3 separate regions of the Homo sapiens genome follow, and regions 1 and 2 are each linked to region 3. Evidence: fine-mapped expression QTL. A gene starts in region 3. Each other region holds a variant in brackets. All regions are shown on one strand. Distances are from middle to middle. Region 1 overlaps ANKRD16 (ankyrin repeat domain 16). Region 2 holds the start of TRV-TAC3-1 (tRNA-Val (anticodon TAC) 3-1). Region 3 holds the start of ANKRD16 (ankyrin repeat domain 16).

What was found. PIP is the estimated chance that this variant, and not a neighbour inherited with it, causes the effect.
Region 1: its variant is the best candidate, but not a certain one, in a credible set for the expression of ANKRD16 in whole blood (INTERVAL, PIP 0.85).
Region 2: its variant is the best candidate, but not a certain one, in a credible set for the expression of ANKRD16 in whole blood (TOPMed, PIP 0.67).

What each region holds. Positions count from the first base shown.
Region 1 is chr10:5,867,441-5,871,604 of GRCh38, reverse strand. All of the region lies in intron 7 of ANKRD16 (ankyrin repeat domain 16), which reads left to right. Among named protein-coding and RNA genes, the nearest start is that of TRV-TAC3-1, 16 kb to the right of the region's middle. The variant T/G (reference allele first, on the strand shown) is at 2,268.
Region 2 is chr10:5,853,657-5,857,820 of GRCh38, reverse strand. It overlaps TRV-TAC3-1 (tRNA-Val (anticodon TAC) 3-1), which reads left to right and starts at 4,038; the gene lies at 4,038-4,110. RefSeq lists a silencer at 3,989-4,164. The variant G/C (reference allele first, on the strand shown) is at 1,791.
Region 3 is chr10:5,887,585-5,891,748 of GRCh38, reverse strand. ANKRD16 (ankyrin repeat domain 16) reads left to right here and starts at 1,856. Exons shown (of 8, transcript NM_019046.3): 1 at 1,856-2,708; 2 at 3,682-3,902. The coding sequence starts at 2,395. FBH1 (F-box DNA helicase 1) reads right to left here and starts at 1,506. Exons shown (of 21, transcript NM_178150.3): 1 at 1,403-1,506. The coding sequence starts at 1,403. RefSeq lists silencers at 1,074-1,123, 1,314-2,033, 2,174-2,283, 2,294-2,573.

The sequences.
Region 1 (4,164 bases), 20 kb after region 3:
CAGGGCAGAGCCCACGTGGGCGCCTCATTCAATGCCAGTATCTAGGAGGGTGGGGGATTTGTGGAGCACATTTATTACGTTTCCTACAAGAATGGATAATAATGTGGACTTACATTTGGCAGTTTTTACACTTTTTTAAATTACACTCTTTCAGTTGGAAAGAGTGATGTGGTGTGATATTTATTTATTTATTTATTTATTTATTTATTTATTTATTTGAGTTGGAGTCTAGCTCTGTCGCCCAGGCTAGAGTGCAATGGCTCAATCTCGGCTCACAGCAACCTCTGCCTCCCGGGTTCAAGCGATTCTCCTGCCTCAGCCTCCTGAGTAGCTGGGATTACAGGCGTGCGCCTCCACACCTGGCTAATTTTTCTATTTTTAGTAGAGACAGGGTTTCTCCATGTTGGTCAGGCTGGTCTCGAACTCCCAACCTCAGGTGATCCGCCCACCTTGGCCTCCCAAAGTGCTGGGATTACAGGCGTGAACCACCAAGCCTGGCTGCGTGACATGATTTTTACTGAGAAGGAAACAAGATGGGAGTGAGGGCTGGCCTCTGCCAATCGTGGTGACGACAGGGACTTGATTGGCCTGTGTGATTAACCCACCCTGCAGCATTTGCAGAACCTGCCTCCTCCTACCATGCTGAAAATGTGATTGACTTGATACTGAGGACAGGCCTGGGCGCTCCTGGGAAAGCACGGGGAGTGGATGCATTTATCGGCCCATGCTCTGTGCAGCTTCTGGCCTGAGCACAGCAACAGGAGGGTTCTGCAGGCATTTCAACCAACATGACACCTCTCCTGGCTTCACCACAGGTGAACCAGGTCTCTTGTTACTCTTCCTACTCTGGAAGGCCCAAAGCATCCTGAAGGGGAGTGACACCCTGGGGGTAATTGAAACAACATTTTAAAAATAGCAATGGCCAGGCACGTGGCTCACGCCTGTAATCCCAACACTTTGGGAGGCCAAGGCGGGCAGATGGCTTGAGACCAGCCTGGACAACATGGTGAGACCCTGCCTCTACAAAAAATACAAAAAATTAGCTGGGCGTGGTGTGCCTGTAGTCCCAGCTACCAAGGAAGCTGAGGTGGGAGAATTCCTTGAGCCCAGGAGGTCAAGGCTGCAGTGAGCTATGATTGCACTTTTGTATTCCAGCCTGGGTGACAGAGCAAAACCCTGTTTCAAAAAAAAAAAAAAAAAGCAGTAGGGAGGGAATGAGGACTGGCTGGTGCCCGGGCAGAGTCGCAGGGAAGAGAGGCCAAGAGCCAACGCTGACCTCACTGTGCGGGTGCACTGGGGGCCCCTGCGAAGCTGACCTCACTGCGCAGGTGCACTGGGGGCCTCCGTGAAGGGGTCGGTGAGGAGCTGGACAAAGATCAGAGCAGGTTTGAGAGAGAATGGGAAGGCAGAACCTGGAGCTTGCAAATGAAGCAGTGGAGAGGGATGTGGATCGATGTTTTGGTTTTTTTAATGGAGCAGATTACAGTTTACAGATTGCTGAGAGAATGGTCCAACAGAAAGTGAGGAGGAGGAATGAGTCTAATGTCTGTACGAAGCAACTAGAGTCTTGTTAAAATGCAGATTCCTTCAAACCTAGGGATCCTGAAAAAAAGAAAAATGCAGATTCTCAGAGGGAGAGAGTCCAGGGGTGCGGGGGCCAGTCAAAAAAACTACCTACTGGATACCATGCTAAGTGATGCGATCCTTACTGCAGACCTCAGCATCACGCGATATACCCAGGTAACAAACCTGCACATGTACCCCCTGTATTTAAAATAAAAGTTGAAATTAGAAACTATTAAAGATGCAGATTCCCACCCACCCACCCCTCCCCCCAGCAACCCCCAGCTGCTTCCAGCTAGTTCCCAGGGGCGGCCATAGCTGCTGCATTGAGTAGCTTCTTGTGCATGAGGAGAAATACTCGCGTTCACCCTGCCGGTTCCTCCCCAGCCTCAAGAGGGAAAGCTGAGCAGAAGGGTGCTGAGCAGGAGCTGGGGCCCTTGGTGCTGGGAAACACCAAGCTGTCTTCTAGGTGCTTCGACTTCTCAGTGAAATAGGAAAGCAGGTGATCAGCTGAGAGTGAGGATGTGGTATGGGAGGTCTGACGAGTTAGGGAAGGGTGAAATAGTCCATTAGGGGAGCAAAGGCCTGGGCAGTGCTTCTCAGGCCCCCACCTTGCTGGACACAGGTGGCTGGGCAGCCCCAGAGAGCTGGGCCTGTAGGTCCAGGGTGGACTCTAGGAATTTGCATTTCCTTTGTTCTTTTCC[T/G]TTTTGTAATGGTTTTACTGAGGTATAATTGGTACACAAAGCTGCACATCCTTGATATATACAGTTTGATTAATTCAGACATATTTGTGCTCCCAGGAAACTATCACCACGGCCAAGGCAATAAACACATCCCTCGCCTCCAAAAGCAGGGTATCTAATCTTTTGTCTCCCTTGGGCCACATTGGAAGAAGAATGATTGTCTTGGGCCACACATAAACTACACTATCACTAAAGATAGCTGATGAGCTTTAAAAAAAAAAATCGCAAAACATCTCAATGTTTTAAGAAAATTTACAAATTTGTGTTGGGCCACATTCAAAGCCACCTGGGCCACAGGTTGGACAAACTTGTCCAAAAGTTTCTTCCCGCACCTTTGCTTTCTTTGTCTTTTTGTGGTATTGTGTCCAGAATTTATTCCTTCTGGTGGGTTCTTGGTCTTGCTGACTTCAAGAATGAAGCCACAGACCTTGCGGTGAGTGTTATGATCTTAAAGATGGTACATTCAGAGTTGTTTGTTCCTCCTGGTGGGTTCGTGGTCTTGCTGACTTAAGGAATGAAGCCGCAGACCCTCGCAGTGAATGTTACAGCTCTTAAGGGTGGCGTGGGCCCAAAGAGTGAGTAGCAGCAAGATTTGTTATGAAGAGCAAAAGAACAAAGCTTCCACAGCGTGGAAGGGGACCCGAGTGGGTTGCCGCTGCTGGCTGGGGGTGGCCAGCTTTTATTCCCTTACTTGTCCCCACCCACATCCTGCTGATTGGTCCATTTTACAGAGTGCTGATTGGTGTGTTTACAATCCTTTAGCTAGACACAGAGCGCTGATTGGTGCATTTTTATAGAGTGCTGATTGGTGCATTTACAGTCCTTTAGCTAGACAGAAAAGTTCTCCAAGTCCCCACTTGATCCAGGAAATCCAGCTGGCTTCACCTCTCAACCCACCCTCTAAACGGAACACCCCAACTGCTACTGGGAATTGGGTGATGACCATTCTAGCTACTTCCTGCTGGATAGGGGCAAAGAAGGGTCCCTGCAGTTGTAGTGTCCTCTAGAGGGGAACTCTTTAGGCCAGTCAAAGGGCCAGCAGTTTGGTCCAGGGGTCCTCAGTAGAAGTTAGTTGAGCTCATTTGGGGTTCCATTTGTAAGACCATCTGTAGCTTGATGGCCTCGATCCTAGAGGAAACAAATTTGACAAAGAGGTTAAAAATACAGGGCCCAAAGGTGAGTAATAGCAAGATGGATGTCACGGGACCTAGAAAGGGGAGAAGTCATGTCACCCAACTCCAGAGGTTGGTATAAGAGTTTGAAAGGCGTTGTCTGATTTCAGAAGCCTTTTCCTGTAAACGCCAGGCGGCATCTCGTACTATCCCTGCCTGGTTAGTGTAAAAGCAACACTCTTCCCCTAAGAAGGTGCAAAGTCCTCCTTTCTCAGCAGTGAGGAGGTCCAAGCCTCGGCAGTTTTGGAGAGTCGCTGCTGCCAAAGAGTCTATTTGGGATCGTAGTTACTATCCTTACTGGATAGATTTTGTTATTTCTTGCAAGCTGTCTGAGAAATCCTTTGAGAGTGTGTGGTAGTAGGATAATGAAGTAGATAAACTGGCTATTCCGGTTCCTGTAGCAGTGGCCATTCCTAACCCTATAAGTAGGGGTATTAGTGGATGGCTCTGCACTGATGGACTTGAGCTTTGAGGGGCGCTGATAGGGTCTGATTTCCATAAGATTAGAGGTTAGGATAATACATGTTACACTGTTAAATTTTAGCAAACTTTACTTTTGTTGAAAACCTTATAAGTTTGGGATTTTAATTTTTCTTTGCTATTAATAAAACCTCGTTCAGTCCATATTATCTTAGAAATGGTATAGATGGCTTCTTCCTGATTCTGTAAGTACTTTAAAGTTTGGC
Region 2 (4,164 bases), 34 kb after region 3:
CCCTGCCTCTACTAAAAATACAAAAATTAGGCTGGGCACCGTGGCTCCTGCCTGTAATCCCAGCACTCTGGGAGGGTGAGATGGGTGGATCAGCTGAGGTCGGGACTTGGAGAGCAGCCTGACCAACATGGAAAAACCCCATCTCTACTAAAAATACAAAATTAGCCGGGCATGGTGGCACATGCCTGTAGTCCCAGCTACTCGGGAGGCTGAGGCAGGAGAATCTCCTGAACCTGGGAGGCGGAGGTTGCAGTGAGCCGAGATCGTGCCATTGCACTCCAGCCTGGGCAACAAGAGCGAAACTCCATCTCAAAACAAACAAACAAAAATTAGCTGGGCATGGTGGCACACACCTGTACTCCCAGCTACTTGGGAGGTTGAGGCAGGAGAATCGCCTGAACCCGGGAGGCAGAGATTACAGTGAGCTGAGATTGCATCTCTGCACTCCAGCCTGGGAGACAGAGTGAGACCCTGTCTCGAAAAAAATAAAATAAAAAAAATATATAAAAGAAAAAAGAATGAAAGGGAGGCTATGCATGCCCCCTTTTTTTCAGAAGGCATGTAGATCATTTCTGTTCACATCCTCCTGACCATAGATCAGTCATATGACTGCTAGAAGAAAATTGAAATTTAGGGATGGTTCAGGGCTTTGCCATATGCCCTTATCAGAGGTGCCTTCATTGAGACTATTTGGGGACAATTATCTGTGCAAGTCTTTGCTGCTGTCCCCACCCTTCCCCTAACACACACACTCCTTAACCTTAGCTTTTAAAGTCTTAGAGACCAGAGAGCAAATCCACTTATTTATAGATACGCAGTTGTAAGGGACATGAGAACAATCTGTGAAGATGGCATTCGGAGCAGAGAACAAGGCCGCATAGCCGTGTAGGGTGTTAGTCCCCTACAGTGATGCTCCAAGTGACCTCATGCAGGTCACACTCCCTGCCTCTCAGTGTCCTGGTAAACGATGGGCAAAATGGCACCTCCTTCCCAGGTTTACTGTGAGGATTAACCGAGTTGGTGTGTGTCAGACCCCGGTCCAGGTCCAGCCCATGCTGAAGTCCAAGGTGAGTGGGGTGGATGAGCAGAAACGCTTTGGTGCAGGGGGCCTAGGCAGGTGAATATGGTTTTATTCAGCAGCAGTTCTCATCAATGGCTTTTTATTAGCAGCTTACTCACATTAGCTCTCTCACCCTGTCCACCTTTATCTCTGCTATTTGCTTTGGCTCTGTGGCTCCTGTGACCCCCGGCTCTCCCTTGCCTTCAGGGTCAGCAGCTTAACTCTTTCTTTCTCTGGCACAAGCAAGCAGAGCTGTGTCCTGGCTCCCTCCTGTCTGTCTACAAGATGGACAGCTTTGGCTGTCTCCCTTTCTCTGGGCGCCAGCGCACCCACCACATCAAGCCATGTCGAGCCAAGCTGAGCCTCAAAAGCACCTGTACGGCGTCAGCAGGGCAGTTATACCTTTTACAGACAATAGTGGCTCAGAGCCAAGTATGAACTTACACAAACAGGTTATGTAACAAGCGGAGGTGTGCGCCTGCGCACCAAACTCACTGAGCCGTGCAGGCCTGTATATCCGCCTCGGTCTCTACCTTGACCAAATCACATCTATATACCTTACAGCGTGCATGATGCTTGGCCCAGCACGTGCACCCAACACGTGTGAGCCATTGTGAGTAACAGTCGCACCAGGTGAGCCTCTTTGGCTTAATGGGCTGAGTCGTCAAAGGCGAATGAAAATCATCAAGTTAGCAGCACAAGACCAAGAAGAGCTCAACTGAAGAAAGCA[G/C]TGAGACAAACACCATTTTTAGCCCCTTTTCCTACTTTTTCTCTTTCTCTTTCCCTCCCTGGGGATGTATGTCCTTAGCCCTTGGACGCCTCCATTGTCTTTATCAAAAAGAAAACTAGGTTTCAGTCTTCATTCATGCTAAGGTGTTAATGAAAAAATTTCAAATTTTATCAATCCTTGAGTTGTCTGCATTTTTTTTTTTTTGAGACAGGATTTCACTGTCAGGCTGGAGTGCAGGGGTGTGATCCCGGCTTACTGCAGCCTCTGACTCCTGAGTTCAAGCGATCTTCCTACCTCAGGCTCCCAAGTAGCTGGGACCACAGGCAGGCACCACCACACCTAGCTAATTATTTTTTTGTATTTTTTTTAGTAGAGACAGGGTTTCACCATGTTGCCCAGGCTGGTCTCAAACTCCTGGGCTCAAGTGATCTGCTCACCTCAGCCTCCCAAAGATATGAGCCACCATGCCCAGCCAATTGTCTGCATTTTAACAAGGATCAAATTATTAAACCGAAAGAATGAAGCTCTCAATATGAAATGCATGCGTCATTAAAAATGTAAAGAAGTATTTTCAAAAATGTATTCTAACTGGGCCTTCCTTCATATCTTTATTTGTATTTTTTGTTTTTTGTTTTTTTTGAGACATAGTCTCCCTCTGTCACCCAGGCTGAGTAGCACCAGGTGAGCCTCTTTGGCTTAATGGGCTGAGTCGTCAAAGGCGAATGAAAATCATCAAGTTACCAGCACAAGACCAAGAAGAGCTCAACTGAAGAAAGCAGTGAGACAAGCACCATTTTTAGCCCCTTTTCCTAGTTTTCTTTTGCTCCTTCCCTCCCTGGGGATGGAAGTGCAGTGGCATGACCTCGGTTCACTGCAACCTCCGCCTCCTGGGTTCAAGCCATTCTCATGCCTCCGCCTCCTGAGAAGCTGGTACACACACACTCAGGTGTGTGCCACCACACCTGGCTAATTTTTGTATTTTTAGTAGAGACGGGGTTTCACCATGTTGGACAGGCTGGTCTCAAACTCCTGGCTTCAAGCAATCCACCCACCTCAGCTTCCAAAGTGCTGGAATTACAGGCGTAAGCCACCGTGCCTGGTTTGTATCTTTATATTTGTTTATTTATTTTTTTTTTTTTTGAGACGGAGTTTCACTCTTGTTGCCCAGGTTGGAGTGCAATGACACAATCTCGGCTCACTGCAACCTCTGCCTCCTGGGTTCAAGCAATTCTCGTGCCTCAGCCTCCTGAGTAGCTGGGATTACAGGTGCCCGCCACCACGCACAGCTGATTTTGTATTTTCAGTAGAGACGGGGTTTCACCATGTTGGTCAGGCTGATCTCAAACTCCCTACCTCAGGTGATCCGCCCGCTTCCGCCTCCCAAAGTGCATTACAGGCATGAGCCATCACGCCTGGCTGGGTCTTTATAATTTTTTTATAATTAAGACATTTTCTGTCCCTTTCATGACTACATCTTGTTAATTCAATTTCTATTCAGCATCTCAAATAGGTCCACTTTCAACAAGCCCACCGACAGCCACTAGGCAACTCCAGCCATTGTCCTCTTGTTCCAGGTACTGTGGCTGCACAGCAAATTACCCCCAAATCTAGCCGTGTAAAGCAGCCCTTTGTTATGCTCATGGATTCTATGTATAGGAATTCAGACAGGGTCCAGCAGCGATGGCTTGTCTCTGCTCCCAGGGACTGGGGATTGCAGCTGGAAGATTTGAAGGCTGAAATCACCCATGTCTGGCAGATGCTGCTGGCTGACGACCTCAGTTCCTCCTCACATGGGCCTCTCCCTCGGTCTCTCCATGTGGGCTGGTGTGAGCTGAGAGAGAGGGAGGGAGCGCCAGGCAAGGCCATATTGCCTGTCATAGCCTAACTTTATTTATGTATTTATTTATTTATTTATTTTTTTGAGACAGGGTCTCGCTCTGTTGCCCGGGCTAGAGTGCAGTGGCACGACCTCAGCTCACTGCAACCTCTGCCTCCCTGGTTCAAGCAATTCTCCTGCCTCAACCTTCCAAGTAGCTGGAACTACAGACACATGCCACCACGCTTGGCTAATTTTTTTTGTATTTTTAGTAGAGACGGAGTTTTGCCATGTTGCCCAGGCTGGTCTCGAACTCCTGACCTCAGGTGATCTACCCACCTTGGCCTCCCAAAGTGCTCGGATTACATGTGTGAGCCACTGTGCCCAGCCTCATGGCCTCATAGTCTAGCTTTGAAACTCAGCTAGCCTGTGGTTCCATAGTGTAGTGGTTATCACATCTGCTTTACACGCAGAAGGTCCTGGGTTCAAGCCCCAGTGGAACCATGGTGTGGTCTGTTGTTTTCCTGCCTGTAATCCTAGCTCCTCGGGAGGCTGAGG
Region 3 (4,164 bases):
AATCCCAGCTACTCGGGAGGCTGAGGCAGGAGAATTGCTTGAACCCGGGAGGGGGAGGTTGCAGTGAGCCGAGATCGTGCCACTGCACTCCACCCGGAGCAACAGAGCGAGACTCTGTCTCAAAATATATATATATATTCCAACCTACTGTGAACCCGTGTGTCCCAATTATGTTTAAAAAACAGGGAAACTAGAGACATAATGCAAGAGAAGATAGTCATCTGAAACTGGGAGAGGGGCAGGGGTAAAAGCAAAAAGCATGAAGCTACCAGATGCCTCAACTTCCAATTTGCACTAACTTCAACGGCAGCAGAACACTGCTTGGCACGCCCTACACTTTTGTGCATTTCAAACAACTTTTATGCCTTCCTTTTTTTCTTTTGCTGGAGTGACAAGGCACGACAGAACAATAACCTGAGCAAAGCTGGTACTTGGACTAGTTCTGTCTCCAGAGGCTATCCACATCACTGTTACCTTAACCAAACTCAATCTGCTCATGAGTAAAACGGACTTATCTTCATGGGCCCATTCCAGAAGTCTTTTCATTTATCTCCGCTCATTTTACCACAGCGGCAGACGCTGGCGGACACTCAACACATGCTACCATCCTGCCTTCCAGAAGACTTTATTACCTGTAATTCTGTAAGAAAGTCACTGACTTGGTTAGGCCTCCACTTCCCCACCTGTAAAACCCTACTGATGCCTCATAGGGTTGTCTTCGGACCACAGACTGCAATAAAAAATGTAAACGGCACTCGTTTTTAGGCCTGGCAAATAGGAGCTACTCCCATTCTACTCCCTAAAGGAATCGAAAACATGGAGAGGTTAAGTGACTGGCACCTAATCAGATCGGGTAAGGAACCCAACACCTACTGATCTCTTCCATCACCCACAGCCTGCCCAGCTCTCGCCGTGCCCTCCACCAGCGCCAGGCCTCCCACATCGCCTTAGGCTTCCCATGCTCAGAGGAGGGGCAGAGAAGCTACCGATGACACAGGGGCAGAGGGCAGCGAAAAATGACTTGCCCAAGGTCAAAACGTCAGAGTAGACGGGAAAGCCTGGCCTCCTAGCAGCCGAGGCCACGTCCCCGCGCTTGCCCCTTCAGCCCCGAGGACCCACACGCTGCGCCTTCCTGGCCTCGGGGGGCAGCGCGGGGGCCGCTCCCGACCGAGTTCAGTGAGCGCCCTGGCCTCCCCCGCGCACCCCCGCCGCGCCCTCCACCTGCCCACGGCCCGGACGGCCGAGCCCCCACGCCCGCGCTTGCCCGAGCCCAGCCTCGCGCCCCCGGGGCCCCCGCTGCCCCACCCCGGGCCCGGACCCCCCGCGCAGGACCCCGGAGGTTAAGTTTTCCACACGGCGGAGCCCCTCCCACACTCCCTGCCACGTCTGCGGCCTCACGCACTGTGGCGCTCCGGACCCGGACCCCGCTGCCGCCGCCGCCGGGCCCGCGCCGCCGGCCGCTCAGCCCAGCGTCCCCCGGCAGCGAGCTCCTCCTCTGGCCGGGACCTGGAGCCCGAGACGCCCGCCGACTTCCTCCGCGAGCTCCGCCCCGCCGCAGCCCCGGGAAGCGCCCGCCGCCGGAGCCGGACTGACGGCCCCCGCGACCAATCGGGACGCGAGACCGGAGGGGGCGTGCTGACGGACGGCCACTAACGCCAATCGAAATGCGCAATCGGTGGGGGCGCGGCCACAGCTACCGGGCCACGCCCCATCCGCGCTTCCGCTCGGGCCGGGGCGGAGCGGGAAACTTTCCCAGAGTTCCTTCGAGCTCCCCGAGTCCCCGCGGAGCAGCGGCGGTCGAGGGGCGGGGACGGGGGCGGAGCCCAGGAACGCCGGCCCCCAGGGGCTGGAGGCTGGGGCGGCCCTGAGGACGCGTGCGGGGCAGGTCACGCTTGGGCCTGGCTGCCTCAGGAGCCACCCTGCACGGCGCCGGGCGAGGCTGTGCGCGCCCTCCCGGACCCTCCACTTTGGGGCTTTGCGGTGTAGCGGCGCGCCCCACTCCCTTACGTGTTCAGTCCCGAATCACGTACGGGCCGCTGCAGCTCCAGGACGGCGGACGCCAGCGCTCTCGGATCCCCAGGCCCCTCCGTGCTCATCCCGGACCGCTCCGTCCCTGAGGAAAAACCGCCCCGTGCCCGGAACCGCGGCTTCTCCCACGCGGGGCAGGCCGGGGCTGTGAGGGGGCAGCCCGCCTGCGGACTAGGCCGGGGGTTTGAGGAGGCGGCTCTGCCGGGGACAAAGCCGGGGGCGTGAGGGGCGGTTCTGCCGGGTTCGGGGCGCGCGGGGCAGGTTGCGTGAAGAGGCGGAAAGTCCCACTCGCCCTCGGCTTCTCCCTGCCCGGCCGCCGGTGTCCCGCCCGCCGCCTCCCCGCGCAGCCCGGCCCGACCCGCGGCGATGGCCCAGCCCGGGGACCCGCGGCGCCTCTGCAGGCTGGTGCAGGAGGGCCGGCTGCGCGCCCTGAAGGAGGAGCTGCAGGCGGCCGGGGGCTGCCCGGGGCCGGCCGGGGATACCCTCCTGCACTGCGCCGCGCGCCACGGGCATCGGGACGTGCTGGCCTATCTGGCCGAGGCCTGGGGCATGGACATCGAGGCCACCAACCGAGACTACAAGCGGCCTCTGCACGAGGCGGCCTCCATGGGCCACCGAGACTGCGTGCGCTACCTGCTGGGCCGGGGGGCAGCGGTCGACTGCCTGAAGAAGGCCGACTGGTAGGTGTGGAGCGGAAAGACACCCCGCCTCCCCTCTACTCGCAGAGTCGTAGCGAGTTCCCTGTGCTTCTCCGTCCCCTTGGACACCGTAGCTGTTCTCAGCTCCTAGTTCTCACCCCAGGCCTGCTCAGCGGCAGGGACCTCCTGCCCAACTTTCCCTTATAACGCAGATGACCTGCAGAGTCCCTCGTTCCTGCCCTTGTGGGTTAACTGGTCGGGGCAGTCACCTCCCTTTCTAGAGCACGGAATAGTGTAGAATATAACCAAAGAGAATGTTACCAAACAATGAAGTGTGTGCACTATACAGATAGCCTCCGGATGCGATGTTCTGGGGACATTTAGCTAAGTTACTTCTGCACCAATGCATTGTTTCAAGTGGCATTGCTCCAATCAATATCCAGAATTCCTGAGTTATACACGCGCTCGTGTGTGTAGAGCACAGTGCAGTTGTATCACATACGTGCAGCCTTGCATAACCACCACAGTCAGAGATACTCTGCTCCACCATCACACAAGCCAATTGCATTTCGTTTGTTAGATTGACACTGATTTTAGTACTCACTAGGTCAGGTTCGTTAGAGGGCGTGAACATCTTTAGGAACATAGGGAAGTACATCTTCCCCACTGGGGCAGGGGAATAGACTTCGTTATGTGTTGAGGGTTGTCTGTGGGTTTTCTTAGCTCTGCTCCAATTCACTGCTATCCTGTGAACTAGCTTATAAGCTGCTTTGTCTCCCAGGCACCCTCTCCTCTAGGTACACGTTCGTTACAATCATTTTCCCCTTATTATTTCTCCCAGGGTCCTCACAGAAGGCACAGAGGTTGCCGGTCAAAGCTGTTTTCCTGCCTGCCAGACCCCTGAATCCTCTAGGTTTTCCATCTGTGCCAAGGATGTGTGTGTTTTGAAGACCTGGCCCCTGGCTTCTAATGTCTCAGCTGCCTCCATCTGACAGCTTCTCCTGGTTGGCCTTAGGACTCCTCTGATGATGGCCTGCACAAGGAAGAACCTGGGGGTGATCCAGGAGCTGGTGGAACATGGCGCCAATCCACTCCTGAAGAACAAAGATGGCTGGAACAGTTTCCACATTGCCAGTCGAGAAGGCGACCCTCTGATCCTCCAGTACCTGCTCACTGTTTGCCCAGGTGCCTGGAAGACAGAGAGCAAAATTAGAAGGACTCCTCTGCATACTGCAGGTACAGCCTACAGCTCTGCAGGTGAGCAGTACACACATGTGGCTGCTTCACCCAGCACTGCCCAACCGCATCTTGTTCAGGTCACCTTCAGGGGAAAGGAGGATTTTGGAAAACAGAAGGCAGAGAATAAGAACATCTGGGGGGGAGGGGGTGGGGGCGGGGGCGCGGGTGCAGTGGCTCACGCCTGTAATCCCAGCACTTTGGGAGGCCGGAGGCGGGTGGATCACCTGAGGTCAGGCGTTCAAGACCAGCCTGGCCAACA